Homo sapiens: one gene and its partner. The protein of the gene in region 2 purifies or fractionates together with the protein of the main gene of each other region. This does not show direct contact. Each region holds a gene or a part of one and is shown on either strand. Other genes may lie near its edges.

Region 1 (15,916 bases), on a different chromosome or scaffold from region 2:
GATCTGCGTAGTGAAACTACCCACAGCAAGGATGTATGCCTGTGAGGTGGCACAGAACTGATGGATCAGACTTGGCCTTCAACCTCCTGTTATCCTGATGAAATTGCAAGCTCCAAACAACAGAGACACAACATTGACCAACAGTAAGATGGCTTGAAGAAATATTTCTTTCAGGACAAACTCTGTGCATTCCATGAGGTAATCAATATAGTATATAGCTATACATTTGCACAATTTTGAAGCCCACTACAACAGTCAGAGTTTTAAAATGCTGTGTTTAGTGAGCATTATTGATAGAGTCTTTAAGATCATCAATCTTAAGTCAAGAAAATTTAGAAAGTACTAAAATCTTAGCGCTCACATGAAAGAAAACTGGAAGCTTTTCCAAATTAGACAACAATCAGACAAATTTGCATAGTATTACCTATATGAGCTTTGAAGCAGAAAGAAAATGTTATAATCCATGATTTTCACAAGTAGGATTGATTGTAGTATTTCATAATTTTGGATGATTGTATTATTTATCAGAATTTTAAAGTGATCAAACTTAGTGGAAAGACTGGTTTATCTTTCTGCTATATTTATGGAAAATTCTATTATAAAATCAATGTCATGTGATGAAGCAAATAGTTACTCAATAGTTGAGTATGAAAACATAGAAATAACTTGTTACACTGTTGAGTCAAGTAGTTAATAAAAATGCTATGTTAGCATGTAAAAAGAACACAAATTAAGGAAGGGCAAATCTGCCCTTTCATCTGCAGGGTGGATGGATGGACTTATGAGGACAAAGCCACTGACATCATGAGCAGGAAACAATGCTTCTCTCAAGCTGCAGCTTCGAAATGTCAAACAGCCTCTTCCTTGGGTGACAACTGCTTTCTGACTCAAAGGAAGACCTTGCTCTCCAGCATCAGGGGCTGTCAGAAACTTTGCTTTTGAGTAAGTACAACATCACACTGCCTGGAGGATCTAGGTCCACCTTTACACAGAAGCACAGAGCTACAGAGAAGGGGTTTCTGGATGGAACATTCACATCTGGCTGGACTTCATGGGTTCTAAGGACAGAGGACCTGGGTCCACTTTGCAGACCAGACTTGACACTGGCTGCTTTACACTTAGGACTGCTACGTTGTGAGTCCATCACTACAGCCTCAAGAATCCCTCCCCACAGTCTTATAATAACCTCTTTGCTTTGTTTTTTTAGTCATCCCAGGTTTCTTAATGTGAATTTATTCCCTTTTTGCTACAAGCCAATAATCCTGAGTCTGTTAACTGCAAAATCAGTTTTGGTGACTGAATGCACTAGGATGTATATTAGTTTCTGGAATTTGGGATGACTGTAGCATTTTTCAGCATTTTAAAGTGAGTAATTTGTTGTGACTTATTTCCTTTTCTTAAATAAACACTAACTTCTGTGTTTAGTTTCAAATAGTTTATATTATGCTATTTTTCATGTAGATAACCCTCTGAATTATGTAAGCCTCAGACCTCACGGAACCTGGATTGCCAGTGGTCATAGTGCTGAGAATCCACCTGCCCAAGGAATGACCGCTCTGGTTCCCGCTTCCCAGGCCTCCAATGGACTTATCCCTCCTTTCAGAGTGATTTGTCTATGCTGAAGGTGGAGTTTCTAACCTCAGCGGTTTTAGGCTTTTAGTAAGAATGTGTGACATTATTTTTGCTAAAGGAACTCTTAGAAGGGGTGCAATATTTCCAAAACATGACCCTCAGTATCCTCCTTTACTCCCAAAAACCGGGTGGCTTCCGGACAGGGCCCAGACCCTCAGCTTGGTCCAGAAGATGAAGGTCCACATGCTCACCTTAAAGCCTCCCTGCCCCCTGCTCCCCTCCTAGGGAACAGACACACAAGGAGATGGTTGAGGGAGCCCTCTACAGAGCCAGACGTCCCCCTCCACTTCCCCAGGAAGAGAGATGTCAGAAAAGTTACTGGTTTACACAAAATTGTCTGTTCCTTGTGTCCTTGGATGGTGGTTGCTTATGTCAAGACAGACTTTCCCCAGGTAGAGAACCATGAGGATCTCCATGCAGGGAAGACTCTGCCCCTAACCATGATTCCTGGGCACATGCTCCTCTGCTCTCAGCCCCTGTCTTCCAACAGAAGCCTGAATCAGTGTGTGCAGCCCCCACCCCCTGACACCGGGTGAGGCCCAGACTCAAATCTCCCCAGTTCATGGCCTCCTGGGTGCTGCTTCACTTTCTTCAACGTAAAACCTTGGTTACATCCCATAGGGGTGGAGAGGAAATGAAACAGGTGCTCCCCACTCTCCCTGCCAGACCATACTCCTCCTGGCTTTCTATGTGCGGCACATGGGGTGCTGGCCTCAGGGCTGTTTCAACAGTTTCCCCTTTGTCATTTTCCCCTCGGTGTTCATGGCAGCCACTCTTGGTCAACGCAGATCTAGGCATGGAAGATAGTTGAGAGCCCTTCCCCAGAGGCACCTGCCCTGAGGGCTGCACCCCCTGCCCTGAAATGGCAAAGGGAAGGGCCGTGCAGGGTGGGCGTTGTCTTAGGACTGTAGCCTCTTCTTTAGAGCGCAACTACCCACTATTCTACAGAATGGTTTTGACACTTAGGTGATGTTATTTATTAATTAAAACATCCTTTGTGAAAAAATCGAGTGTCCACTGCATGTCACTTTCATTTGTGTTTTAGCTTCTCCATCCCTGCCAAGAAGGCTGACCTGAGTGCTCATTTTAAATTCAAGTCCAGAGAAAGGGCGGCTGGGTGTGAACGTGTAAAACTTTTCTAGGGCACAGCTTCCTAGCATAGGAGACAACCTCCCAGCCTGGGGCACACCCTCCCAGGATGGATGAGAGCAGGCGTTGCTTTCTCTGGGTGATCTTGCCTGTCTTTGGTCTGGGTGGCATTTTTCCCAATAAGTTATACACACACACACACACACACACACACACACACACTTTTGGACTTTGTTTCCATGTAGGTGCCTAAAGTCTCCTGTGGAAAGAACTACACGTTGATCGCTGTCTATTTAGTGTCTAGGGGATTTGATGAGAGCAGCTCAGTCCCTGGAGTCTGCTCCACTCTGCAAGCACAGATGGACTCTATGGCCTGGCGAGCTCCACTGAGGCCTGGCCCCTGCCTGTGGACACAGCCAGCCCCCTCCTCGTGGTCTGACCAGCAGCTCAGACCAAAACAGCAGCCTAGCTTCTGGGGCAGCTGCCTGGGCCCCCTCCTCTCCCTGACCCCCTCACCAGGGGCTGCTGCAGCTGAAGGCCTGGGTTCCCAGTCCCTGGCTGCTCTCTCCCTGTTCTGAAGCTCAGGTCTCTGAAAGTGGCAGCAGCTCCCCTGATGGCCTTGCTGTGGCTGCGTCAGCTCCCAGGTACTCCTGTGATCTCCACACCAGCAGGACAAGGAGGCTTCATAAAGGAACTGCAGAAACCCCGCCTGCGTGCACATCCCCAGACAGCCAAGAACTCAGAGGGAGGCGATGCTACTGTTTAATTGCAGGAGGTGGGGGGGTGTGTACCATGTACCAGGGCTATTAGAAGCAAGAAGGAAGGAGGGAGGGCAGAGCGCCCTGCTGAGCAACAAAGGACTCCTGCAGCCTTCTCTGTCTGTCTCTTGGCGCAGGCACATGGGGAGGCCTCCCGCAGGGTGGGGGCCACCAGTCCAGGGGTGGGAGCACTACAGGGGGTGGGAGTGGGTGGTGGCTGGTGCGAATGGCCTGGCACAGATCCCTAGGATTCTTGACACCTGGATTTCACCAGGGACCTTCTGTTCTCCCAGGGAACTTCGTAGATCTCGAAAGAGCACAACTGTTTCTGTGAAAGGGAAGAGAGAGGGCCAATCAGTGTGGGTTACAGTTAAAGGGGAAGATGCCCAGGCATGAGATGTCAGAGCCTGGGTGAGGAGGATGGAGGTGAGACACTGGGCCCTCACCCACCCCTACTGAGTCCCAGAGTGCTGAACTAGAATGAATAGTGACTGTTCCATTGCCCCTCCCAAGGCTCCAAGTCACCAGGTGGCATTGGGACCCCACCCCAGCCTGCAGTGTCCTGTCCCAGCACAGCCCTGTGAGGAGTAGCCTGGGCAAGGCCTCGGGAGCCCCAAGGGTGCAGGGCATGGGGAGGCAGCTCAGTTCCCCCAGCTCCTTCCACCTCCAGCACCCAGGCCAGCACTAAGAGGGGCCAGAGGGAAGAACCCAGGGCAGGGCAACTCCCCCTCAAAGAGCTGGGGCATGGGGCAAGGGCAACAAGGGGAGTGTGGCTCTCCCCTGAGTGGAGACCTCACAAGAACCAGCAGGTCCTTGGAGAGGCTGGTGTTGGGTGAGCCGGGCAGGTCCAGGGCTTCCCAGCTAACAGGCCTCTAGGTCCCACTAATCTGATCACTGTGGCTGTGGCTGCATGCAGGTGCCTGAGGCTGGGATTAGACAGAGCCCCTTCTCCCTGCCCAGCACACAGCCGCACAGCTGCTTCTTCCTGTCCAACAGGCAACACTCCAAAGCAGGCAGAATTGACCTTATAGTAACCATTCCCAACCTAAAGCCTTCCTAGCAAATCAAACACATCACCCTCCTCCCTCACCACCCCATCTGCACATACATGGACAACTACGTAAACTCACTTGGACCCCTCATCCCCATGGATCTATGTACAAAGCCCCATACACCCCCCACACATCCATGCACAGGCACACATGCTCCCATCCACCTCCCTGCACACACTGGCACAGGTGTGTACACACGTGCACCTTTCCACATGCACACCTACATGCACACCCCCCCATAAGTACATGAACACGTACACATCCATGCATACACGGCTCCCCACATACCCACCTGCACACACACACCCTCCAAACATGTGTAGGGCAGAGGCTGACACATACGCACCCCTCTGCAGTGCATGACTGGCCCGGGACCTGCATCAGGAACGTACCTTCTGCAGTTCTGGCTGTTCATGGAAGGCACAGGTGTCCAAGTTGGGCTGGGACTTGGTACATATGGTGCGGCCCACCTCTACGTCGAAGAAGTAATTCACCCCCCCAACGGTCTGCACACAGGAGAAAACAGGACAGCGCCCCCATCAGTTCATGCACTCACAGGCACTTCACTGTGGCTGAGTCACTGGACTTGCTTGGGGGCTTCGTGAGCTGCCCACATGTCAACACAAGGCACACAAGCCCCCTCTTCCTGTCAACTGGCAGGGTGCTGAGCCTCATACCCGCTCTTAAACATTGCTTTCTCTGTGCTGGGTAAAAGGATTCATTGAATTCTGCTGTCTGTGGCTCAGGGGCGAGGGAACACTGACTCTTTTCTAGGAAGTCTGTCTGATGACAAAATTTCACCTAACTTCTGAAAATCTTATTCCCTCCATTTAACATAGATTTATTACTTCACTCAGAGTAGGAAATGAGATGCTTCACACACACAGATATTTTGGATCAATGGGGCCGCCCGGATGCCACCATTTCAAGTGTGAGATTCAAGATACATTTCTCAAGTCAGCAGCACACCTGCGTGTCTTACAGTTGCAGATTAGAATTGAACCCTTTCCCTGCATAGGGCCTTTCCCAGACACAATGTGGCAGAGCTGTGGAGAAACCTGGGATGAGGGACTCTCTGGAACCAGGAGGAACTGCTGAGATCCCTCGAGTGTCAGTTTACCCATGTCTAAAATAGGCTTCTGGGCCTGATGGTCTGCAATGCCCTGTGCTTCACTCCAAGTTACTGTCATGCTTGAAAGGGAGATGCAGGCCAGCGGGGACCACGGCACCAGGGAGTGTATCTCGTATGCAGGGAGAGAGCCCCAGCTGACAGCTGCAAGAGGAGAAACGGGGCTGGTGGGGATTCCTTTGAATTTCCAGGAGAAGGTGGAGGAGCTCTAAAGACTGTGTCACTATTTGCTGCTGTGCCATGGGATGCAGGTCAAGCTGGGCCCAGTTGCCCTGCTGAAGCTCCCTCCCGACCTGACCCCTCCTCTGCTCTGCTGGGTGACCACTGTCCTCATCTGGCTGAGGTCTAACTGCATCAGCTGGTAGAGGCAGGGTCAGGCATGCTCCACCCCAGCAGGGACTCAGCGCCCTGGGCTGTAGGGGTTTGTCAGCCGGCCTGAGGGTGAAGGCCGCTAGCCATAAGGGGCTGTGCCCAGGGGCGTGACTTGGGGAAGCAGGGCTCTGCAGAACAGTGAGCCAGGTTCCTGTGTGGCCCCTGCAGAGAGGACTCAGGGAGGAGTATGAACCTCATGGCCTGGATCTCATCCTGAGCAGCATCAAGCCCACCCAGAGTAAGCACAGTCTCCATCCACACCTGCTGGACCCTGGGAAATGCCACAGTCATGGTACAGACACAGTGGCTGCTGCAGGTTAAAGGAAGCTGAGTTTGTGCACGGCCGGGGAGCGTGCTTAGGCATGAAGGGCATCAGCGGAGAGCCAGGGAAAGCTGAATGAATCTGAGCATTAGATCATGAATGTATCAGTGTTGATTTGCTGGGAATGCTCTTGGGGGTTGGGGAACAAACCAGGCTGGGACCCAGGACCCCTGGGGTGGAGGGAGCACCTACCTGTTGCCTGGCTCTTAGTACCCGCAGCGGACGTCTGTAGTAGTCATCTTTGGTGGCCTTGTTATACTCGCTGATGGCGAAGTGAAGGGCACGCTGTACCCACTCATCATTGAGGTCTGCGTTATAGATGCCACCCGGGATTATCCTATCCTCCTCCTTGGGGCTCCAGGCCAGGGCCACAGCTAGGGTGGCCAGCAGGAGCAGCAGGGTACTCAGATACTGGGCCATGGTCTCCTCAGAGGCAGAGCACAAAGCTGGAGCTGCAGGAGAGGAGGGTGAGAGCCCGAGGCAGGGAGCCCAGACCAGCAGGCAGGTGTGCATTTATCCTGCTTTGGCAGCCCAGCCCCACCCACCTCCATGCCCCACCCCTGACTCCTCCTCCTCTTTCTTCCCATCCCCTCTTTCTCCATCTCTCTTTTCACTCCCCCGCTACTACAAGCTCCCTCCCTGCCTAAGTTCCCCCTGCCCCTCCCAGGCCTCCTCCTCCATCTCCCCCTCCTCCCCACTCCAGTCCTCACTGCAGCCTCCCCGAGCCATGCCTCTCTTCCCCAGTGCTCCCAAGCTTGAGTCACCCAGGTCTCCACAGAGGTGACACTGGTCCTTTGACTGTGAAAGCTATGTGACTTCCTGTTTGCTCAGAAAGGGGAAAAATACAGGGCTTGGCCTCCCAGGGTCTTCAGATATCAGGGGCATCCAGGAGCACTTGGTCACAGTCTCTGAATCTCTGGAACAGGGAGATTATTTCAGAAAGTTCCAGAAGACCCTGTCCATACCCTAATGTGGAGAATTTCTTTGCCAAATTTAAGGGAATTAACCTTTTTGGAAAAGGTCACTGGATTCTCTTTTCATAATTCATTATTCAATAAGCAAACCTATCACCAGCTACTCCCCGTGCCAGGAGGTCTAGGGCTTGAAGACGGAACCTGGATGATGAGCCATAGAGGTGACATTGCAGAGCTGCTGCCCAACAGACATGTGACACGAACTCACGAGCAATTGAAAATTTCTAGTAGATGCATTTTAAAAGATGAGAATAAATGGGTGAAAGTAATGTTTAAAATATTTATTTAACCTTATATAGCCACAATGTGATTTCAGCTAATGGGAACAATTATTAATGAGATCGTTTATGTTTTTTTTTTTTTTGTTTTTTTTTTTTTTGGTTTTGTAAATCTTTGAAATTCCCTGTGTATTTTTAACACTTAGACCAGAAGTAATTTTGGACTGGCCCCATTTCAAGTATCCTGTGGCACATGTGGCTGGTTCTATGGAACTCCATAGTCCATTCCTACACAATGTGTGTAGGGGATGGTAGGTTACGATCAAAAATTAGGGTCAGGGAGTTATGCTCACTCTTTTGGAAGTGAAATAGAACAGGGGCTAGAGAGAGACCACTGGACCCTGGTCAGGGTGGTCTCTATGAGACTGGAGAGGTTGAGAAGCCCCAGGCAGTGGGGAACAGCCAGTGCAAAGGCCCTGAGGTGGGGTTGGGACATGCCTGCTCCAGAAAGTGGAAGCTCCTGGAGGGGGTATGAGGAGGGAAGGGAACGACCTGGAGTCTCACAGTAAATGTGGGTGGGGCCCGGTGGAAGGTGCACGGAGACCCCTGTGAGGCAGTGGGGGTGTCAGGAAAGGGAGCAGCAGCCACGGGATGAATGTGGGAACCCACAGGTCTCTCTTGCTTCTGTCCTAGGCAGCCATGCTTCAGGCTCCTTTCCTCTGTTCACTGCTTGGAAGACTCACCTGATATTTTAAAAATTGCCTTAAATGAGGTAGAATTTGCATACAATAAAATGCCTAATAGTATGTGCTCAATCTGGGGTGTTTCATAAATGCATACACTTGTGTTACCACTTTATCCAGACCTGTGACATCTGCCTTGCCCCAGACAGTATCTTCCTGCCTTTCCAGCCACCCTCGTGCCCACCCCACCTTGGCAGTCCCCATCCGGCCCCATAGACTCCTTGGTCGCCTGTCCTTGAGCTTCCCAGGAATGGAGTCCTGCAGAGCGAGCCCATGTGTGTCTTTGTCCTTTGCCCAGTGTGGCTTTCCGGCGGCCCCCGAGTTGCTTCATTGCCAGGATTGTGAGTTCTCCTTCTCCGCAGACTGAGAGGATTTGGTCAGTTGGGTGTCCTATGGGCTGACAAAGCCCCCAGCTCGGGATGCTGTGGGCCTGGGCTGGAATGTGACTCCAGGAGAGGAGAGGGTGGAAGGAGGCTCTGAACAGACAGCTGCTCCCTTTGTTCTCTCAACCCCACCCTCCATGCCTGAAGGTGACCCTGTGGCAAATGCCCTTATGGGGAGGTGGCAGGCTTGGCCAGAAGCTACAGGAAACCCTGGACCTTAGCAGGACACCCAGAGGACTCTCCCAGGAGTGGTGGAGGTGAGCGTTGGCCAGTGTCAGCCCAGACCTGTTTAGAACACTAAACAATACTATAATAAACAAATGACCAAGTGCAGAAACCATCACATAAAGGTGCAAGTGATGAGGACAAGCTGGCCAAGAGTCATCCTGGGCTGGGACATGGCTGGGGCTGGATCAGCAGGAACCCGGCATTGGGAACCATATTACTCATGGGTGCTCATGTTCAGTATTAGTACAGGGAACCTTGTTACCTGAGGCCTGGTGACCATCTCACCCCACTGTGAATCCAGCACCCCTAGAATAGCCGTGCAGCCCGGCAGATACAGCAGGTGTACCGAAGGTGTTTACTGCTGGGTGAAGGAGGGAAGGTCTTCAAACAAAGCTGCACATATGCCTCCTAGTTAGACAGGAAATGGGGAGAGATTTCCAAAGAAGGGAAAGAGAAGGAAGTCCCTTACCAGGTGTTTGGGAGCAGAATGGTCATCTCCAAAGGGTAGGAGTTAGTTCTCCTCTGTGGCTCCCACCTTCCTGGGACAGCTGGGAGTCCAGGCTCAGGAAGACATGCTGTGCAGAGGGTAAACTGAAGGTCAAGCAATCCTCTTGTTTTTTTGTTTGTTTTTGTTTGTTTGTTTTGTTTTGTTTTAATCATTGGAAAGGAGATGCAGGTAACCCAAATAGCGAGAATGTGCTGGTGGGTGGAGTATGAGGGAGGGAGGCCAGAGTGCTGACCTGTGCCCTGTATGTGATGACACCACCAGTGGTCATCTTCTGTCTGGGCACTGGCATGCACTGCAGGGAGGGTCAGCTGTTCTGATGCAGCAAGCTCTCTAATCCCAGTAGGAAAAATACCAGTGTACATTGCTCTTAGGAGGAGGTACAAGTGCGATGTCCAGTATGGAGTGATAGGAAGTAGCAGGTTGAGGTAGCTGGCCAGCTGCTCCAGATGTTTGATGACCTTAGGCAAATGGTGTGTCTGTCATGCATCTGGAGAAAGAGGCTACTTTCTAAAGCATAGTATCTGGGAGTTAAGACCAGCAGAGATGAGCAGACTTCAGCAGTGATGTATCAACATGGTTAAAAATGATGGAGTAGCCAGGTGTGGTACTGCACCTGTAATCCTAGCTTATTAGGAGAGTGAGTCAGGAAGATTCCTTGAGTCTAGAAGTTCAGTTTCAGCCTGTGCAACACAGTGAAACACCCATCTAAAAAAAATGGCAGAACACTTTGTTCCCTGATTTCTATAGTCCACAGTTTTAAGGACACACTAGAAGAGGGCCAGATAGCAACCATGGACTGAGGAACAAGCTTGGGGCCTCCAGCACCCATGTAACCTAGAGGAGTCCAGCTGCCCAGGAGGGGGCATGTTTTCCTTCTGCTAGGTGACAAAAGAGAAAGCTGTGTTCCCCTAGGCTGCACAGGTGAACTGATCTGATTATCTGAATTAGTAGGATGAGAAATTAGGTGAGTGGCAGAAGTTCTCTGCAATAAATGACCAATAATAAGTGAACACTAAACAATACCATAATAAATGACCAAGCGCAGAAAGCATCATGTAAAAGTGCAAGTGGTGAGGACAAGCTGGCCAAGAGTTGAGATTCTGCACAACTGGGTTTTGAGCAACTAACAGTTTGGTCTATGGTAGGAGCTGGGACTGAACAGCCACAGGATTTGGTGGCTTCTCAAATGGGAAGCCCAGGAGCCTCCTTTATGGAGTGCCTGGAATTCTCTGGGGTCAAGCTCATCTCTTTCACACTCCATCCTTCCTTCTTTTCTCCCTCTCCTCACACATCGTGGACACGTGGATGCTTCTAAATTATGGGCCCATGTTGGTAACACATTTGGCTCTGTTAGGACATGTGGATGCTTCTAAACTATGGGCCCATGTTGGTACCACATTTGGCTTTTCCACATCATTAGGAAACTGATACTCATGGGGAAGCCTGCTGGCAGCCCCGGCTGGGAAAGGCAAGAGAGGGCAGAGCCCAGTGTCAGGTCTGATTGTTTTGCACTCCGTGGGGAGAAAGAGAATCCTTTCTCTCAGGGACCAGCACATGAATGGTATTCCTGGCTCTGGAGTACAAGTTAACATTTATTTTTCAAAAATCAAAAAGAGCATTTGTCAGTGCAGATTCACTGACTGAAGAACCACATATGAATGGAGGGGAGTAGGGGCGGCCTCCGGAACTCGGGCTGCTGGCTGCTGCAGCCAGGGATCCATCTGACTCCCTGGGCTACAGCCTGCAGAGGCCTGGCCATGAGGAAAACAGATGACTCTGAGGAGGTGAGTCATCTCCTTGACATCTCTGGGTGGTCAGACTTTCTTATCCTGTTTGGGTCACTGCTGGGACTTCCCTGTCACTGTTTGTGTAACCTTAAATATCAATTCCTTTAGCAAAATGCAGTGACTGTGGAGATTGGTTCCTCTTCCTGCTTGGAATCCTGTTCAACTCAATCACTGAGTGTTGGAGCTGGAGCCAGAGGCCATCAGGACAGCCCTGCTCCCTCCTGTGGCCCTGCCTGCCCTTTCCTCCTGTCACAGAAGAGCTGGATCCAGTGACAAGACTCACCTTGACCAAACCCTTGTTAGGCTCCTCTGAGCCTTCCTCTGCCCTGGTCCTCAACCCTAGTCCCCAGCCCTGGACCTCCTGTTCTTGCGAGGGCTTCATGGCCCAGTTTTAGGAAAGAATCCTGCTAAGTCAGTTTAGAAAGGCTCCCCCCCACCCTTGGTATCTGATCACCCTCAACATCTGACCAAGTTCTTCTTTCCTTTGATGTCTAAGGCTTTGTCCTGGCTTTAGCAACAATATTGTTAGGTCAGTTTATCTAGAACCTCCTACCTTTGATGTCTCTGCTTAGTAATTCTGTTTGAAACCGTTCCAAAGCTACTTTAATAATGACCCAATCATTCCATACTGTAAGTGAGATGATTTTACCCTCCCTACTTGCTTGTTTTAATTGTTTTCCAATTTTTCTCCAATCTTTTAGATCTAAAGTTCCCTGTTCTAGAAACCATGGGCAGAATCGTTCTATTGTTTGAAATAGCGTGATTTGATTTTTTGTAGAAACACTAACTCCCCCACTTTTTACAAAAATTTTAATAGAGCTGAGATAAGAGGCATATTTACTTTAGTTTGCCCCATTGTTACCCTGGCTTCTTTCGAGCTTACCACAAGGCTGACTGTAGACGTACTCGGGAATCTCTCATCAACTTGTCCTCAGTGACCACGCTTGAGCGTACCTTCACCCTAGAGGAAAGCACCCACGTTGGGCACCAGATGAAAGGGTGGCCAGCTGCTCCACACCTGTGGGCATTTCTCATTGGGTGGGATGAGAGACTGAGAAAAGAAAGAGACACAGAGACAAAGTATAGAGAAAGAAAAGTGGGCCCAGGGGACAAGTGCTCAGCATAGGGAGGACCCACGCTGGCACAGGTCTCTCCGTTCCCTCAGTATTTATTGATCATTATCTCTACCATCTCAGAGAGGGGGTTGTGGCAGGACAATAGTGTAATAGTGGGGAGATGGTCAGCAGGAAAACATGTGAACAAATGTCTCTGTGTCATAAACAAGGTTAGAAAATGTGCTGTGCTTTGATGTGCACATACATAAACATATCTGGTGCATTAAAGAGCAGTATTGCCAGCAACATATCTCACCTCCAGCCTGAAGGTGGTTTTCTCCTATCTCAGTAGATGGAACATTCAATTGGGTTTTACAAGCAGATATTCCATTGCCTAGGGAGTAGCAGGAGACAGATGCCTTCCTCTTATCTCAACTGCAAAGAGGCCTTCCTCTTTTACTAATCCTCCTCAGCACAGACCCTTTACAGGTGTGGGGTTGGGGGATGGTCAGGTCTTTCCCTTCCCACGAGGCCATATTTCAGACTTTCATATGGGGAGAAACCTTGGACAATACCTGGCTTTCCTAGGAAGAGGTTCCTGTGGCCTCCTGCAGTGATTTGTGTCCCTGTGTACTTGAGATTAGGGAGTGGTGATGACTTTTAACAAGCATGCTGCCTTCAAGCATTTGTTTAACAAAGCACGTCCTACCTAGCCCTAAATCCGTTAAACCTTGAATCAACACAGCACTTGTTTCTGCCAGCACAGGGTTGGGGGTAGGGTTACAGATTAACAGCATCTCAAGGTAGAAGAATTTTTCTTATTACAGAACAAAATGGAGTCTCTTATGTCTACTTCTTTCTACATAGACACAGTAACAGTCTGATCTCTCTTTCTTTTCCCTACACACATCTACATGGAAACTGAACAACCTGCTCCTAAATGACTACTGGGTAAATAATAAAATGAAGTAAAAAATGAAGATGTTCTTTTAAGCCAATGAGAACAAAGACACAACGTACCAGAATCTCTGGGACACATTTAAAGCAGTGTGTAGAGAGAAATTTATAGCACCGAATGCTCACAAGAGAAAGCAGGAAAGATCTAAAATCGACACCCTAACATCACAATTAAAAGAACTAGAGAAGCAAGAGCAAACAAGTTCAAAAGCCAGCAGAAGACAAGAAGTAACTAAGATCAGAGCAGAACTGAAGGAGACAGAGACGCAAAAAACCCTTTAAAAAATCAATGAATCCAGGAGCTGTTTTTTCTGAAAAGATCAACAAAATTGATAGACCACTAGTAGACTAATAAAGAAGAAAAGAGAGAAGAATCAATAGACCCAATAAAAAATGATAAAGGGAATATCACCACCAATCCCACAGAAATACAAACTACCATCAGAGAATACTATAAACAGCTCTATGCAAATAAATTAGAAAATCTAGAAGAAATAGATACATTCCTGGACGCATACACCCTCCCAAGACTAAACCAGGAAGAAGCTGAATTGCTGAATAGACCAATAACAGGCTCTGAAATTGAGGCAATAATTAATAGCCTACTAACCAAAAAAGTCCAGGACCAGACAGATTCACAGTTGAATTCTACCAGTGGCACAAAGAGGAGCTGGTACCATTCCTTTTGAAACTATTCCAATCAATAGAAAAAGAGGGAATCCTGCCTAACTCACTTTATGAGGCCAGCATCATCCTGATACCAAAGCCTGGCAGAGACACAACAAAAAAAGGAGAATTTTAGACCAATATCCTTGATGAACATCGATGTGAAAATCCTCAATAAAATACTGGCAAACCGAATCCAGCAGCACATCAAAAAGCTTATCCAACAAGATCAAGTGGGCTTGATCCCTGGGATGCAAGGCTGGTTCAATATATGCAAATCAATAAATGTAATCCAGCATATAAACAGAACCAAAGACAAAAACCACATGATTATCTCAATAGATGCAGAAAAGGCCTTTGACAAAATTCAACAGTGCTTCATGCTAAAAAGTCTCAATAAACTAGGTATTGATGGAATATATCTCAAAATAATAAGAGCTATTTATGACAAACCCACAGCCAATATCATACTGAATGGGCAAAAACTGGAAGCATTCCCTTTGAAAACTGGTGCAAGACAGGGATGCCCTCTCTCACCACTCCTATTCAACACAGTGTTGGAAGTTCTGGCCAGGGCAATCAGGCAGGAGAAGGAAATAAAGGGTATTCAATTAGGAAAAGAGGAAGTCAAATTGTCCCTGTTTGCAGATGGCATGATTGTATATTTAGAAAACCCCATCGTCTCAGCCAAAAATCTCCTTAAGGTGATAAGCAAGTTCAGCAAAGCCTCAGGATACAAAATCCACGTGAAAAAATCACAAGAATTCCTATACACCGATAACAGACCAACAGAGAGCCAATTGAACAATGAGAACACTTGGACACAGGGCGGGGAACATCACACACTGGGGCCTGTCATGGGGTGGGGGTGTGGGGGAGGGATAGCATTAGGAGAAATACCCAATGTAAATGATGAGTTAATGGCTGCAGCAAACCAACATGGCACATGTAAACATATGTAAAAAACCTGCACATTGTGCACATGTACCCTAGAACTTAAAGTCTAAAAAAGAGGGAAAGTTCTAAATATCTGATAAATAATCAAACTGAAATAGGGTAGCCAACCTGGGAGTCCCCAGTTCTACTTGTGTTGTTTGTCATGTGCATCAGATTATAAAAGCTAAAAGTGGATTCCAGCCTCTGTGATTATTGTTTTGCTCTCTAAAGGAACAGCCATTCAGTGGTGGTTTGCATTCTCCTTTGCCTCTCTTTAGCATGCCACTTTAGGGTTAGGGTGGCGTTTGACAGGGTGAACCGGGATCCTCCCCTTTTCTCACTGAGGTGCTGTCTTGACTTACAGTCAGGAGCCAGGACCTGGGCAATGCGGAGGACCAGCATGCTGTGCCCCCACAGACCTCCTGGATTGCTTATTTGTATCTGGGAAGAGTTAAGTGCTGTCCTGGGTCTCTGATATATGGGCTGCTTTTAGGATTTGCCAAAAGGAAACTTTTAAAGCTTCTGTTTCTTTACAGCCAGCAGCTCAATTACTTATGGGAGGTAGGTTGTCAAGGGGACAGTAAAGAGTTCATTTGGGAAAAGAGTGGAGAAGGAGTACAGTGGAAAATGGAATAAATCATGTGTGAGTCAGTTGCTGTTCCACAGGAAAAACTCTTAACATCTTAGGGACTAAAAGCAAGAAACTGTTCCTGTCACGCTCTGGAGCCTGCAAATGGGCTGGGGCTTAGCAGATCTGGTCTGGCTTGCCTTGTGTCTTCAACCTGGGGCCCATGCTAAGGGGCAGTGTCTGCTTGGATCAGGTTTTCTTCATGATGGTGAGGAGGTGAGCAGGAGGACCCACCTCTCGCATCTGCAGGGTTAAGGTTTCTGTCCTTGTCACATCTGTTAAGGCCCAAGCAAGACCCATGACCATGCACAAAGGCAATGGGGGTTTATGCTGCAATTTTTGGAGAGAGTTGCTGCTAGCCACATGGCAGAGGGGGCATGCATGTATAGTTTTGTTCCAGCAAGGGAGACAGCTCTCCATCAATCCTGGCATACCCCCTTGAATCTAGGAAAACCCCTTTTCTCTGTGCCATGACATGG
Region 2 (15,856 bases):
TGAGATGGAGTCTCGCTCTGTTGTCCAGGCTGGAGTGCAATGGCGCAATCTCGGCTTACTGCAGCCTCCGCCTCCCGGGTTCAAGCGATTCTCCTGCCTCAGCCTCCCGAGTAGCTGGGACTACAGGTACATGCCACCTTGCCTAGCTAATTTTTGTATTTTTAGTAGATACAGGGTTTCATTGGCCAGGCTGGTCTCGAACTCCTGACCTCAGATGATCTGCCTGCCTCTGCCTCGCAAAGTGCTGGGATTACAGGCATGAACCACTGCGGCTGGAGGCCCCTTCATTCTGCACATAAAAGCCTGCGGGCCCAGAGAGGGGGAGTAACTGGCTGGAGGTCACACAGCAAGGATGGCTGAGGCAAGCACGCAACGAACATGGAGGAGTACTGTGATTGCAAGTACGCAATGCTCCTCCGTCCCCTTAGCAAAGGCCTCCCCAAATGGGGAAGCGACCAAGAGGGATTAAGCGAGACTGGTGGAGTTCCTCCTGAGACCTAGATGCTTGGATGCTCGCTAAGCATAGTCACATTCCTGGGCTACTCGAACCTTTAATAACAGACCCTCGCTGAACCTTCCTGATGTCAGGTGCTTGCTAAACAGTAGGCAAGACACGCAAACCTTCCGTGCGTCAGCCTCCTTATCTATAAAGTGGAGCTCTTATGTCTACTTCATGAGGTTGTTGAGGTGAGTTAGGGGAAGCCAGGCATGTCAGAAGCATCTAGAAGTATTATTAATACACACTTTCTTGTATATTACTGCATATAACCCTTGCCATGCCCTACGATGTGGGCACTCAGACTGCCCCAGTCATACAGATAAAGCAAAGGACTCAGAGACACTGAGTAACCCACCTGTGCTGGCAGTCTGTAAGGGATCGGTCCCTGCCAGTGAACCTGAGAGCCTACATTCTTAAGCTCTATTTTTACTACCTGTACCTTGCAAGATTAGTATGAGTCTTGTCATTTGAATGAATGATGCTGAGATCAGAGAGGTTAAGCCACATACCTGAGACCACAGAGCCCAGAAGTGGCACCGCTCCGACTTGTCCAGCTCAGGACTGAATTACTCAAGCCCCCATCCGTGCAACGTCTATTCTGGAGACATCCTTCTGAGATGTCGGTAGAGGTTCCACCAGGGAAGGGTTTTTTTCACTGATGTATCCCAAGCACATAGTAGGTGCTCAATAAATATGTGTTGAACTAAAGGTTAAAAGAACAAGCCATGCAGATGCAGTCACAGGAAAGCACACGTAAGAACATCTGCAGTCGTGACATCCAGGACTCTTTGCCCCAAGACTGATTTCCCTTCCTTTTGCTTGCTCTTTGTCCCTTGGGTGTCAGACTGGTAAACCCAGCGCTTCCTACCTGGTGGTCTTCAGCAATGCCCATGCCTTCCAGAGACGGGGGCCTGCATCCCAGACACCACCACTATGGTTCCCACAGCCCTTGGAGTCAGCTCCTGTCCAGCCCCATGGAGACGCCGTCCATCAAGGGCCTTTACTACCGGAGGGTGCGGAAGGTGGGTGCCCTGGACGCCTCCCCAGTGGACCTGAAGAAGGAGATCCTGATCAACGTGGGGGGCAGGAGGTATCTCCTCCCCTGGAGCACACTGGACCGGTTCCCGCTGAGCCGCCTGAGCAAACTCAGGCTCTGTCGGAGCTACGAGGAGATCGTGCAGCTCTGCGATGATTACGACGAGGACAGCCAGGAGTTCTTCTTCGACAGGAGCCCCAGCGCCTTCGGGGTGATCGTGAGCTTCCTGGCGGCCGGGAAGCTGGTGCTTCTGCAGGAGATGTGCGCGCTGTCCTTCCAGGAGGAGCTGGCCTACTGGGGCATCGAGGAGGCCCACCTGGAGAGGTGCTGCCTGCGGAAGCTGCTGAGGAAGCTGGAGGAGCTGGAGGAGCTGGCCAAGCTGCACAGGGAGGACGTACTGAGGCAGCAGAGGGAGACCCGCCGCCCCGCCTCGCACTCCTCGCGCTGGGGCCTGTGCATGAACCGGCTGCGCGAGATGGTGGAAAACCCGCAGTCCGGGCTGCCCGGGAAGGTCTTCGCTTGCCTCTCCATCCTCTTCGTGGCCACCACAGCCGTCAGCCTGTGTGTCAGCACCATGCCCGACCTCAGGGCAGAGGAGGACCAGGTGAGCGGCCTCTGATGGCATTCACGGCTCCATCCCGCAGGGTGCCTGGGCGGAGATGTCTTTTAGGGGCCCAAGAAAATGTCTTCAGATCTTAAAATAAGAAGAAAAAAATGAATATTATCCAACATGGGTTATATTCATTATTAGGCCATCAGTCATAAAAGATAATTTTCCATCTTTTTTTTTTTTATTGGAGTCCTGCAAAGGCAAAAGTGCCTAAGGCTCACCGTGAAAATCATTACGTGGCCCTCAGCCATGCGTGGACTCAGTGGGCCACACAGACACAGTGTCACCTCTCCCAGCTCTCCCGAGTCTGTGACTACAGGCAAATCACGCCACCTCCTCTCTGAGCCTGTCTCCCACTCCGTGAAATGGGTAACATCACCTCGAAGGTTTACTCACCCAGTGAACTCAACATGTGTTTACTGAACACCACTCTGTGCTAAGCCCTAGAGCAGGTCAAAAACATAAAATCCCTGCCTTCTTGAGCTAACATTCTCCTGGGCATCCCCACTCCATTTTCAGATGAGGAAACTGAGGCATGGGCCATTTATTTTCCTCGGAGCTCCACAGTAAGGATGCCAATGATGCAAAGGTCCCCGGCCTCAGTTTCCCTGCAGTGCTCAGTGTCTGGGCCAGTCTCACTGGATGGGAAACTCACAGATGAGCTGATCTGTAAGTCACTCTGCCCCAGGAGGCCAGAGTAAAAAGTGCTGCTTGCCCACACCTTCGTCCCCTTTGCAGGGAGTTACAGGAGACCCCGAGACACCCTCCCTCCACTCGGGAGCCAGATGGTCTGAGAAGTGAAATAAGAACCTAGCATTTGGTTGAGAGGGTTATTGGAAAGCTTCAAACAGAGAATTAGATTGTTTCCTGATTTAAAAAATCACTCCTCTCCAGCACCGAGCTCCCCCAGGGCTGCCCATCATCTTAATGTTTGGAGCTTGCCTTGTAATCAACAGAGAGAGAAACTAAACACATACGTAAGATGGTGCTTGCTCTATTTGGCTCCTAACAGTTGCCAGCCCACCTAAGTTCTCTTCGCTTAAAGATATGTCCCAGGGCAAGACAACAGGATCAGAGAACTTGCCAGATAGAAAAGACTTAAATGGAGAACCAGCCCATGCCTCACAGACAGTAGGATCCCAGTAAATATGGGTTGAATAAAATGTGTCTTGTCCAACCTACAAAAGTTTGGCCCTAAAAAAACCCACAAAATATTTGGACCTTTAAACAGCTTGTTTTCCCATGGAGAAGATGACAATGCCAATCATAGGCATTTTTTCATTCTACAGCATAAAAACATGAGATTTAAGAGCCTGCTTGTTCACAGAAATATTTATGTGTGGACTCTGCAGTACAAAGATTAAGACAAAACAAGTGACCTCCCTACCCCATTTCTTAAGGGTGCCCTGATCCCAGTTAATAAAGAAAGGCCCCTGGATGCTCACAAGCCTGTTCCTCTTACAGATTTCCAGAGAAGGGAGAAATTGTGTAGGAGCCAGGATTTCGGTTGCGCAGACGGCCAAGATCTTTTCAAAACCTAATGCTTTGAAAATTACGCAGGGTATGAACCCAGGCCTGGCTTAACAGTGACTCAGGAAATCAAATTAGAGGGGAGAGGTGGGCCCGCAGACCTGCGCAGCCAAAGTTTCAGCCGAGGATCAGGCAGCCACGTCTCCTCCTGGGACAAGAGAGATTTATGCCCGGGCCCAGCCACAATATCTTTATGCTTTCTCCTTAGTGAAAGCATCTTTGTGTGTGTGCCCAGAGACAGGCTGAGGTGCTGCCCAGAGAGTGTCTGTGTTTCCGTTTAGATAATAATTCAGAGAGCAGGGAGGCTGAGGACGGGGCAGTCTTTGTTCTCCCAAGACGGTGACCTTACATTTACGTAAAAGGATGATGTCCTCTTCCTGGACACACGTGCTTTGTATTCCTTATTTGCCCTCAGGGAATGTCAATCTGAGAGGGACCAGCTGCTTCTGGGGACAGGCAGTGCCCATTGAGTTTGGGGCCAGTGTCCTGTAAATTGACCCTGATACCATCCACGCTGAAGAATTAATGTCACGATGGGTGGGGGAACAGATCCCAGGGCTATAACCCACAGAACTCTTCCATCAGAAACAGAAACAATGGATGGACATTTGCTGTAAGCAGTTTCTGTTTTTCTACCTTCTCATAGCAACGTCCGTTGGCATAAACCTGATAGTGGGGTAAAAGGTCTGTGCCAGAGATTGCAAATTACAATGGAGGCTGGGTGCAGTGGCTCACGCCTGTAAGCTCAGCACTCTGGGAAGCCGAGGTGGGTGGATCTCCTGAGGTCAGGAGTTTGAGATCAGCCTGGCCAACACGGTAAAACTCCATCTCTACTAAAAAAAAACAAAAAAAAATTAGCCAGGTGTGGTGGCTTGTGCCTGTAATCCCAGCTACTTGGGAGGCTGAGGCAGGAGAATCGCTTGAACCCGGAGGTGGAGGTTGCAGTGAGCCAAGATTGTGCCACTGCACTCCAGCCTGGGCAACAAGAGCAAAACTCCATCTCAAAAAAAATTACAGTGGAGAAGGGAAGAGGCAGTGTAGACAGGAAGGACCAAGCCAGCACCTGAGCTCTTCTAAGGGGCACCGGATTTTAAAGTTCCGGATTTCCCAGGGGGGACTCTTCCCCAAAAGGATGAAAGAACCGATGCCTCCTAAGTGCCGCTCGTGAGGCTGGCATTTCACACCGTGGACTGATTTCATCCCTGTGGCAGCATAGGGAAGTGAATACCACTTCTACCCCCATTTTACAGATGAGGAAACCGAGGCTCAGAGAGGTTTTATCACTTTCTTAAGCTCACAGTAAGGCAGAGCTAAGATTTGAACTCACCTCTGATTGGCTCTAAAATCCGACCCCCTATGACTACACAACACTGATACCATCTTTCTTTCCTTTCCTTTTCTTTTGTTTTCTTTCTTCCTACCCTCGTTTTATTTTTCTTCCCTTCTTTCCTTCTCTTTCTTTCTCTCTCTCTTTCTTTTTTTAAATTTGAGACAGGATCTCACTTTATCACCAAGCTAGTGTGCAGTGGCATGATCTTGGCAGCTCACTACAGCCTGCATCTCCTGGGCTCAAGTGATCCTCCCACCTCAACCCCCCAGGTAGCTGGGACTACAGGTGGGTGTCACCACACCCAGCTAATTTTTTGTATTTTTTGTAAAGACAGGGTTTCCCCATGTTGCCCAGGCTGGTCTCAAACTCCTGAGTTCAAGCGATCTGCCTGCCTTGGCCTCTCAAACTGCCAGGATTACAAGCATGAACCACCGTGCCCAGCCCTAACTTTCAATTCTGGGCCACTTCGCCTCTAGTCTAGAACCTCAGCCTCAGGGCCATTTTGTGCTTCTAAGGCAGCCAGACTTTGTAAAACAGCTCTCAGGCCAGCATGATGGTGCGAAGGCCAGATGTCCTGGGTTTCAATCTTGGCCTCACCCATGACTAACCCAGTGATCTTGGGAAAGTCACTTAACCTCCTTGAGCCTCAGTTTCCTCCTCTATGAAATGGGGGTGCTCTAAGCACTTCCCTCAAGGGGTCATGTGGTGCATAAAGCAGCTGGGACAGGCCGAAACACGGAGGTGCTCAGCGAAAGTCCGTCATACTGATCATCATTCATTCATTCATTCATTCATTCAGTAGTAGTTAACAGGAAACCAAACATTCATCCTTTACCATCCTTCAACAACAGTCATTGACTGCCTACTAAAGTCCATTCTTCTGGGTGCTGGAGAGAAGACAAATTTCTGATTTCCTTGGAGCTTAGATTCTGAGCAGCCCTGCTCTATTTTTTTTTTTTTTTTTTTTGATAGGGTTTCACTCTGTCCCCCAGGCTGGAGTACAGTGGCACAATCTCAGCTCACTGCAGCCTCTGACTCACAGGTTCAAGCAATCCTCCCGCCTCAGCCTCCTGAGCAGCTGGGACCACAGGCAGGCATCATCACGCCTGGCTAATTTTTGTACATTTTGTAGAGATGGGTTTCACCATGTGGGCCAGGCTGGTCTCGAACTCCTGAGCTCAAGTGAGTCTCCCACCTCGGCCTCCCAAAGCGTTGGGATTATAGGCGTGAGTCACTGCACCCCAGCCCCCTGCTTCATTTTTCTGAGTTGACATTTACATAACATGAAATTGAGCAACTTAAAGGGAACAATTTAGTGGCATTTAGTACAATCACAATCTTCTGCAGCCACCATCACCTCTGTCTAGTTCCAAAGCTTTTTCTCAGCATTCCAAAAGAAAACCCTGTCCCAACTAGGCAGTCTCTCCTCCTTCCTCTCCCACCAGCCCCTGGCAATCACCCATCTGCTTTCTATCTCCATGAATTAGCCTATTCTGGACATTTCATAGAAACAGAATCGTGCCAGGTGTGGTCTTCTGTGACTGGCTTCCTGCTCCAGCATCATGTCTTCAAGGTCCATGCACTGTGCCATGCGTCAGACCTTCATTCCTCTTCATGGCCGAATACTATTCCACTGTATGTATATGCCACTATTGGTTTATCCATCTAGCACTGATGGCCTGCTCCATGTTGATAGCTGAAGATAGAAAGACACGTTCCAAAGACCGACCCCCACCTCCAAGGAACAAGATGGATTTGAGACATGAAGCCAAGATTCTGTTCCCATGGCTGCCATACAGACCCCTTTCAATAGGCAGGATTCGAGATCTAGTCCTGACTCTTTTTTTTTTTTTTTTTTTGAGATGGAGTTTTGCTTTTGTTACCCAGGTTGGAGTGCAGTGGTGTGATCTCAGCTCACTGCAACCTCCTCCTCCCGGGTTCAAACAATTCTCCTGCCTCAGCCTCCCACGTAGCTGGGATTATAGGCACCCAACACCATCCCCAGCACATTTTTGTATTTTTAGTAGAGATGAGGTTTCACCATTTTGCCCAGTCTGGTCTCGAACTCCTGACCTCAGGTGATCCGCCCTCCTCTGCCTCCCAAAGTGCTGAGATTACAAGCTTGAGCCACCACGCCCGACCCCGACTCTCACTTGAATGCACTGGGAGATCCAGGGCAGGTCACGTCTACCCCTGGACCTCAACCTTCTGCTGGTAAAATGATGGTCTGGACTTGTCATTTTACAGGCTGACTGGTCCCTAGTGCCCTTCCAGCCCTGGGCACCTGCAGCCTCATGTCCTGGTCTGTTTGCTGCAGTTTCCCAGGTTCTTCCTTTCCCTCTGCCTTCATTGTCCTCCCTGCCATGCATCCCTCGCACCCTCTCCATGTGGCCTCAGCCCTGGCCGGGCAGCTCTGCCTTTCCCTCCCTCCTGGCAGCCTGAACACCACTGGCCACCTGCAGTGGACTGTCTTTCTTCCTCTTTCCTGCTACTAAGACATCCCAACCACTGCAGATAGTATCAGGTCAGGGTAAGGGCCAGCATCTTTAGTTTGCTCGTCCTGGGTTGAGTCCCAGCTCTCCCACTCCCTGGCTCTGCCCTTGGACAAGTCCTTTTCTTTCTCTGTGCCTCTATTTCCTCACCCAGCAAAGAGGACAATCATAACACTATTCAGAGGGCGGTGCTGAGGACTGAACGAGAACCTGTATATCAGGGGCCAGCACAGAGTGGACGCTTGTTGTTCTGCTCCCCCTTGGGGCTGGGCTCACACCCCTGGACCTGCTCTGCTGCTCTGCTCACCAGCCTCCATCCCTGGCTCCCTCCAACCTAATAGCAATGGCCAAGTCAGGGGCCGGTGGCTCAAATGTCCTCTCCATCCCCTTCCAGTGTCTGCCCTCATTCCTCCTCTGCTCCGGCTGTCAGCGCGTCTTTTCTGAGAGCCTGCTCTGGCTGGAGACCCGGTGGGAGAAGCAGGCGAACTCGCCACGCGCAGGACCAGCCCTGCCGGCCTTCCCACTGTTCTCCTCCCATCTTGGGTGCTACGCCTGCCCCACAGCATTGCCTGGGGCTTTCAGGGATATTGTCAGAGGGACATGCACACCCTATGGCAACCAAGTAAGGTGCCCTTGGTGATGTCTCTGCAGAACCATGGTGGGCTTAGGGAGCAGAACTGCACGGGCTCTTTGGTCCTCGCCTTCCCTCTCATCCTGGACTGTAGACATTTCAGTGTCTTACTAAGGTGGAGGGCAGGGGAAGGAAGGCACAGAGAGAGTTTTCTTTGTTTGTTTATTTTGAGACGGAGTCTTGCTCTGTCACCCAGGCTGGAGTGCAGTGGTGCGATCTTGGCTCACTGTAAGCTCTGCCCCCCGGGTTCACGCCATTCTCCTGCCTCAGCCTCCTGAGTAGCTGCGACTACAGGCGCCCACCACCATGCCTGGCTTTTTTTTTTTTTTTTTTTTTTTGAGATGAAGTCTCACTGTCACCCAGGCTGGAGTGCAGTGGCGCGATATCAACTTACTGCAACGTCTGCCTCCTGAGTTCAAGCGATTCTCCTGCCTCAGCCTCCCGAGTAGCTGGAACTACAGGCGCCCACCACCATGCCCAGCTAATTTTTGTATTTTTAGTAGAGACGGGGTTTCGCCATGTTGGCCAGGCTGGTTTCGAACTCCTGACCTCAGGTGATCCACTAGCCTTCGCCTCCCAAAGTGCTGGGATTATAGGCCTGAGCCACTATGCCTGGCCCACAGAGAGAGATTTTTCAAAGACCAGGCGGGACTCTTGGGGCCTCCTCCCCGGGATGCAGCTCACCTTTTGGGGTGCCATTTCCACCTCCCTGCCTCCTCACCCTTTAGTAAGAGGCCCTGTACAAGAGCCAGCTCCTGCCTCCTCATCTGTCCCTTTCTCGGACCATGAATCAGCTTCCTAAAAAACTGGCCTGCTCTCTGGAGCTTCTCTGTGCTTGGTGGCATTTGGTAATTGCTCTAGCGAATGCTTCTTATCCTAGTTTTGTTGCTTTTGTTTTTTTCCTGCAGCTGTGTCTCTCCCTATGTCCCAGCCAAGAAGCAATATTCCCTGTTTCCTGGCCTGGGGCCTCCTTGATGCTCTGCAGGTGACACTGTTTCCTCTGCCTCCTCACAGTCCCCCCACCTCTGCAGGTCCAACTCCAGCCCCCCGCAAATGCCCCATGCAGACGCCACCACCCACACTCATTCATGAGTCGTTCAGGAAGGGCCCCTGCAGGCCGGGCCTGTGCTGGACACTGGGAGAGTCCCTAGGTCTCTCCTTCGGTGACTGCTGACGGGACACCAGCACAGAGGCGATGGGATGGCGGCCCGCCTTCCCCACACGGGGAGAACCGCTGTGAGATTCAGAGTCAGTGGATACTTCTTAGACCCCTGCTGGGCTCCTGGCCCTGTGCTAGTCATTTCCCTGTTTCCTAATTTAATCCTCACCACAATCCCATTCTACAGATCAGAAAACTGGGTCTCAAGAAGTTATGCAACTTGCCTGACAGCAGCTAAGCTAGTAATGCTCCCTCAGTGGCAGCTGCTTTTTTTTTTTCTTTTTTTTTTGAGACAGGGTCTTGCTCTGTTGCCCAGGCTGGAGTGCAATGGTACAATCTCGGCTCTCCTCCAACCTCCTGGGTTCAAGTGATTCTCATGCCTCAGCCTCCCGAGTAACGGATTACAGGTGTGCACCACCACGCCAGGCTAATTTTTGTGTTTTTAGTAGAGACAGGGTTTCCACACACTGGCCAGGCTGGTCTCAAACTCCCTTGCCTCAAGTGATCTGCCCACTTCAGCCTCCCGAAGTGCTGGGATTACAGGCGTGAGCCACCATGCCCAGCCCAGTGGCAGCTGCTTTCTAGTAAGAATTTGCTGGAACCTCTAGAAGAGAAGTCAGCCATCCAACCCGCCCAAGGTGAAGGCCGTGGAGAGCCGGTGATGGATCAGCCACAGGGCATGAACCGGAGGGCAGCAGCGGGAGAGGACTGAGGAGGAAGAGAAGCAGCGTAGATTTGGGAAGCTTCTACACTGCAGCATCCCTCAGCGGGTCTCCCGGGTGCCCACAATCGCCCTGTGGGATGACAGTTACCTTCCCCACTTCACAGAAGGGAAGACGCCTTCAGAGAGATGACTCATCGGCCAGGTCCCATGGTGGGGCTGACCCCGTCCGGTTGGTTCCAGCACTCTCAGAGCCCTTGTGTCCCAGGGTTGGGAAGTGGGGACAGCTGCTAGAAGGAGTGGGCGGGGGGGTGGCGGGGAGACCTGGGGAGGAGGGATTGCGGCTCGGGGTGAGTAGTGCCTGGGGGGAGGCCCATGGGAGCGGAGTAAAGGAGGGGAGGGTAGCGGAGGGCACGGCTGGCCGAGAGAAAAGTGGCTAAAGGAGTGGGCAGAGGAGTGAGTCAGCACATCCAGGCCCCAGGAGAGCCTCAGAGGAAACAGCTCAGGGCCTCGGGCCAGGGCCAAAGGCACAAATGGTGAACTCACAGCAGGAGGGAGGGGAGGGAGGGATGCCGAGCTGCAGAATGGACCAGCCCTGACTAAGGAGCTGCAGAAGTGAGAGGTGGCCACGTTCTGAAGTGGGGCTGGCAGCATTTTGCTGGGAGGGACAGAGGGGGCGAGGAAGTCTCCAAGGTCAAGACTGTGGGCCCTGAGCCCCTCCCAGATGGAGCTTCCAGAACTGGCCTGCATTGCATCTGCAGGGCCCCCAGGGCAGCAGCTTTGCCCTCAGGAAGCCCCGCTCTGCTGCTGCGTGAAACAGGTGAGGGCCAGGCTGTGGGACCCCCACTACTTCCACTTCCTGCCTCCCCCAGGAGTGTTCAGCCAGCTCAGACTCCGACGATAACTCCCATACCACAATATTGGCCCTTTTAAAGTGCACAATTCGGTGGTCTTTAGTATCATCGTGGAGCTGTGCAGCCATCACTGCTACCCTCCTCCTCCATCCAGCCCCGGACACCCACCCCTCTGCTTTCTGTCTCTGTGGATTTGCCTGCTCTGGACATCTCACATAAGTGGAATCATCCAACATGTCGTGTCTGTGTCTGGCTTCTTTTCACTCAGCATCGTGTTTTCAGGGTGCATCCATGTTGTAGCACGATTTAGCCCTTCATTCCTTTTCATGGCTGACTACTATTCCATTGTATGAATAGGCCGCATTTTATGTATTCACTCATCAGTTTATGGATGTTTAAGTTGTCTCTACTTTGGGGCTATTATGAATAATACTACCATGGACTTTTGTGTACAAGTTTTTTTGGGTTTTGTTTTGTTTTGTTTTTTTCTGAGACAGATTCTAGCTCTGTCGCCCAGGCTGCAGTGCAGTGGCACAAGCTTGGCTCCCTGCAACCTCCACCTCCTGAGTTCAAGTGATTCTCCTGCCTCAGCCTCCCGAGTAGCTAGGATCACAGGCACCTGCCACCATGCCTGGCTAATTTTTGTATTTTTAGTAGAGATGGGGTTTTACCATGTTGGCCAGGCTGGTTTTAAACTCCTGACCCCAGGTGATCCACCCGCCTCGGCTTCCCAAAGTGCCAGGATTACAGGCGTGAGCCACCACACCCGGCCTGTGTACAAGTTTTTGTGTGGACATGTGTTTTCATTTGTCTGAGCTATACACCTAGGAGTGGAACAGCTGGGTTGCATGGTAATTCTGTTTAACCTTTTGAGGACCTGCCAAACTGTTTCCACTGCCGCTGCCCCATTTTACATCCCCACCAGTAGTGATGGGTTCCAGTTTCTCCACAATCTCACCGACACTTGGCTATTGTCTGTCTTTATGATTTTAGCCATCCTAGTGGATGTCAATTTGTGTCTTATTGTGCTTTTGATTATCCTTTTTTTTTTTAACTTTTCATCATGGAGAACTTCAGACATTTACAAGGTAAATAGAATAATATAAGGAACTTCTGGGAAACCATGACTCCATGACTTAGCTACACACAATGGTCAATATTCTGCCGCTTTTGTGTATGTTTGTCTTTGAGACGGAGTCTCGCTCTATCGCCCAGGCTGCAGTGCAGTGGTGCAATCTCGGCTCACTGCAACCTCCGCCTACCAGGTCCAAGCCATTCTCCTGCCTCAGCCCGCCAAGTAGCTGGGATTACAGGCATGTGTCACCATGCCTGGCTAATTTTTGTATTTTTAGTAGCGACAAGGTTTCACCATATTGGTCAGGCTGGTCTCGAACTCCTGACCTCAGGTGATCCACCCACCTTGCCCTCCCAAAGTGCTGGGATTACAGGCGTGAGCCATTGTGCCCAGCCAATATTCTGCCATTCTTGTTTCCTCTCTTTCCATCCCCTCTCCACCTCAGATCACTTATAATCATTTGTTACTATTTTTCTTCTACAGTTTTACAGGTGAAATGTACATACACTGAAATGCACAAATCCTAGGTGTAGAATTTAATAAACGGATGCACCCGTGTCAGCCTCTCCCCTGTGAGTATAGAATATTTCTGTGACCCCAGAAAGCTCCCTCGTGGCCCTTCACAGGCCATCCCTACACTACCCAGAGGCAGCCACTGTTCTGATCACTTTGTGCACCCTAGATGAGGCTGCCTGTTCTCGAGCTTCCCACAAGTGGAAACACACACCCGGCTTGCTTTGCTCCACATCATGCCTGTGGGATTCATCGGTGTTGTTTCACCATTCACACCCTGGGCCTTCTCCAGGCTGACGCTTGCTCTTCTTCATTGCAGGAAGGAGCCAGAACACACCTCGCTCTGCCTGTGGCAAGGGCTAGGAATAGGGTGACCAACCATCCCGGTGTGCCCAGGGCCCAGGGGGTTCCTAGGACCCGGAACTTTCTGGGTTTAAGCACAGAACTTCCACAAAGGGAGAAAGGAAAACTTTTTTCTTTCCTTCTTTCCCCTTTTTTTCTTTTCTTCGAATGTTTGCTAAGCTGGGAGTTATTTCCTCTGCCCACACTCCATAAACACCCCCTGCCCCAATGCCAGCATTTCTGAGGAACCAGTGCTGGGAGGCTGGATTTAGGATGCACAGCAGAGCCTGATGCAGGTGCAGTGACGCGGCAGAGCAGAGCCCTTGCTGCAGTCCAGAGAGGTGGCCAGAGGGCCAGGCCGTGGGAGGGCAGGAGCCGGTGTGCATGGCTTGAGTGTCCAAATGCCAGCCCCACAGGCAGGAGGAGGACCTGGCAGCGCCTTCTCGGCCTCTCAGGAGTCACCTTCCTGAGCTATCGGGTCATCAGTATGGAAAAGTTATTCCCAGGCTATAAGTATTTTAAGCCTAGGGAGAAACTCCCAGGATGTCTGCAAAGAGAGAGGCCTTGTAGGCAGAATCTAGCTCAGAGTCTGAAAACCTTCCAGGTGCCTCAGAGTGAATGGGGGGAGTTACCAAAATGTAGATTCCCGGGCCCCACCCTAAGGTTTGGATTTTGTGATGGGGGCCCAAGAATCTGCATTTACAACAAGCACCCTGGGGGCTTCTGGTGCCAGGGTTTCCAAATCAGCTTTCAGAAATACCAATTCTGTTCCAAACTCTGCATTGGAAACTGAAGCACAGAGAGGGCCAGTGGCCGCTGCAAAGTCACACAGCAAGTTTGTAGCAGGGCTGGGGAATCAGAACCCAAAACTTCTGAGCCCTTCAGGATCCTGAAGCAAACCCTGGGCAGTCATGGCAAAGACCTCTCGGTGGGCTGGAGAATCCCCTCATCTTCCTGTAATATCCAGCAACAGGAAGAAGGTATTGCTACCCTTACACTGACCAGGAGACTGTGGTCCATGACCAATGTATAGTTCGGTTAAAATGGCTACAGCGCATCCTGTGCCTGCTAGGTGCACGGTCCTGTTAATGGCTTTATGTGCATAATTTCCATTCATCATGACAGCCCTCCAGAGGTTAGACAACTGAAAGTCCAGAGGAGACAAGTGATTTGCCCAAGTAAGTGGAAGAGATGGGATTTGAAACTGCGCTAGGCTCTGAGAGTATTGTAACTAGACAAGCAGACATGGTTTCTGGGGGGCTTGAAGGCTGGTAGGGCACAGAAAGTTCCTGATTCTCCAATCTTGCTAAAAACTTGCTGTGTGGCTTCGCACTGGCCACTGACCCTCTCTGTGCTTCAGTTTCCAAAGAAGAGGCTGGAACACTCTGGACTCCACCCCTTGGCAGTGCTGCCTCTGACTCCCACCCCTGCAATAGTCCACACAGAAGTCCAGCCAGAAAGGTGCCCTGCCCTGGACAGGCAAATAGAGACTGTCGTGGTTCAGTCTCTTTCTCTTTCTCCAGCAGCCAGGCATAAAGAACATTTCAATTTATGATTTCTGTGGACACTGGAAATAATTTCTTTTTCCATTTCAGAGCATTTTAATCCAGAGAAAACTGTGGTTGTCAACACCTTGCCTTTTACACAGAGAAGTTGCTTTGGCCATTCATCCATTCATCCATCAAATATACATATCTGTGTGTGTGTGTGTGTGTGTGTGTGTGTGTGTGTGTAAATATGTATAGCAAAGTTTTCTACCCTGGCTCCACATTTGAATTATCCATGGGGGTTCTGGAAAATTCTACTGTGCAGCTCAAACCTACATTAATTAAATTAGAATCTTGGGAGGACCCTGCCCAAGCAACAGAATGTTTCAAGGAACCCCCAGGTGATTCCAACATGCAGCCAAGCTTGAGAACCACACACTAGAACAGTGCCTGTCAAACTTCAGTTTGCATGAGTCACCTGGAGACCTTGTTAACTGCAGAATATGATTCCGTGGGATGGGGTGGGGCCTGAGATGCTGTGTTTCTAACAAGCTCCTCGGGGAGGCTGATGCTTTTGGCTCAAGGTCCACACTTTGAGTGGCAGAAGGACTGGTGGAACTACCCTGAACTACTGGGGAGGAAGAACAAAATACAGAACTCAGAACGGCCCCCGCCCAGCTGGAACTGCTGAGCTAGAATCCCGCATGTCGATGGCAGCAATCACACATCCCAAGGGCTGTCTTGGGGATTCAGGAACCCTCTCTGCCCCACCAGCCTTCAAGCCATCAGAAACGATATCTGTTTGTCTAGTCACAGAATGCCCGGGGTTAGAACCATGCCTGGCACAAAGTGGGCCCTCCATACATTTCTGTTAGCTAAATGAATGAGGGGTGGTAAACAACAAAGTTACAAAATAGCCAACAGTATCTAAGAGACCCTGGTACCGCCTCCTATGTATGTGAGCTCAGGCGAGTCACTTCACTGCTGTGACCAACTTCCTGGGCCATCAAATGGGGTCACACTGCCTGCTCATAACATTGCTATGTGGCTTGAGTGACAGCAGGAGAGCAGTGCGTGGTCCCCCAAGGTACTTAACATCATTAAGGTACAGGCTGGCAGCTATAACAAAGAGACCCCAAACTAGAATAGTTTTAAGCCAAATTTTTCTCTTGTGCAATAGTCCCAAGGTGAGGGATGTAGGTGAGTATCGACAACTCTTATTCCAGATTCTCCCGCCTTGATGTTCCCTCCTCCCCTGGGGCGCTGGTCCAGTCCTCTCTTCTTAGCTGGGTTGCAGGCCCATTTGTGCTGTCCCGGCTCACAGGAAGGATGGAAAGAGTGTGCAAGAGTTAGATCCAGAGGTGGTTTGCATCACTTCTGTTTCCAGTCCGGAGGTGAGGACTTAGTCATATTTGGCCACACCTAGCGGCAAGGGAAGCCAGAAAGAACAGTCTCTGACCTAGCCGATCTGCTGTGTACCCAGCCACAACTGGAAAACTGTGTAAAAGGAGGTTCTGGTGGACGACTAAGTTTACAGCACAAAGCTCATGGGCATGAAGTCGTCCCCCGATTTCCAGCACAGTTGCAAGTCCACTCTCTACCCCGCGTTGTTGCCTCTTCTCCCCGCAGGGCGAATG

Evidence for each region.
Region 1: the proteins of KCNG4 (region 2) and CST1 purify together in Homo sapiens (affinity purification with mass spectrometry; 2 studies listed by BioGRID and IntAct, with this or other methods). This does not show direct contact.

The regions. Positions count from the first base shown.
Region 1 is NC_000020.11:23,744,093-23,760,008, forward strand, and holds CST1 (cystatin-SN precursor), read right to left. Parts: upstream 6,844-15,916; 5' UTR 6,775-6,843; coding exon 6,547-6,774; intron 5,038-6,546; coding exon 4,924-5,037; intron 3,808-4,923; coding exon 3,724-3,807; 3' UTR 3,470-3,723; downstream 1-3,469. UniProt on the Homo sapiens protein: Human saliva appears to contain several cysteine proteinase inhibitors that are immunologically related to cystatin S but that differ in their specificity due to amino acid sequence differences.
Region 2 is NC_000016.10:84,223,013-84,238,868, reverse strand, and holds part of KCNG4 (voltage-gated potassium channel regulatory subunit KCNG4), read left to right. Parts: intron 1-1,343; 5' UTR 1,344-1,383; coding exon 1,384-2,139; intron 2,140-15,848; coding exon 15,849-15,856. UniProt on the Homo sapiens protein: Regulatory subunit of the voltage-gated potassium (Kv) channel which, when coassembled with KCNB1, modulates the kinetics parameters of the heterotetrameric channel namely the time course of activation, deactivation and inactivation and on the voltage-dependence of activation.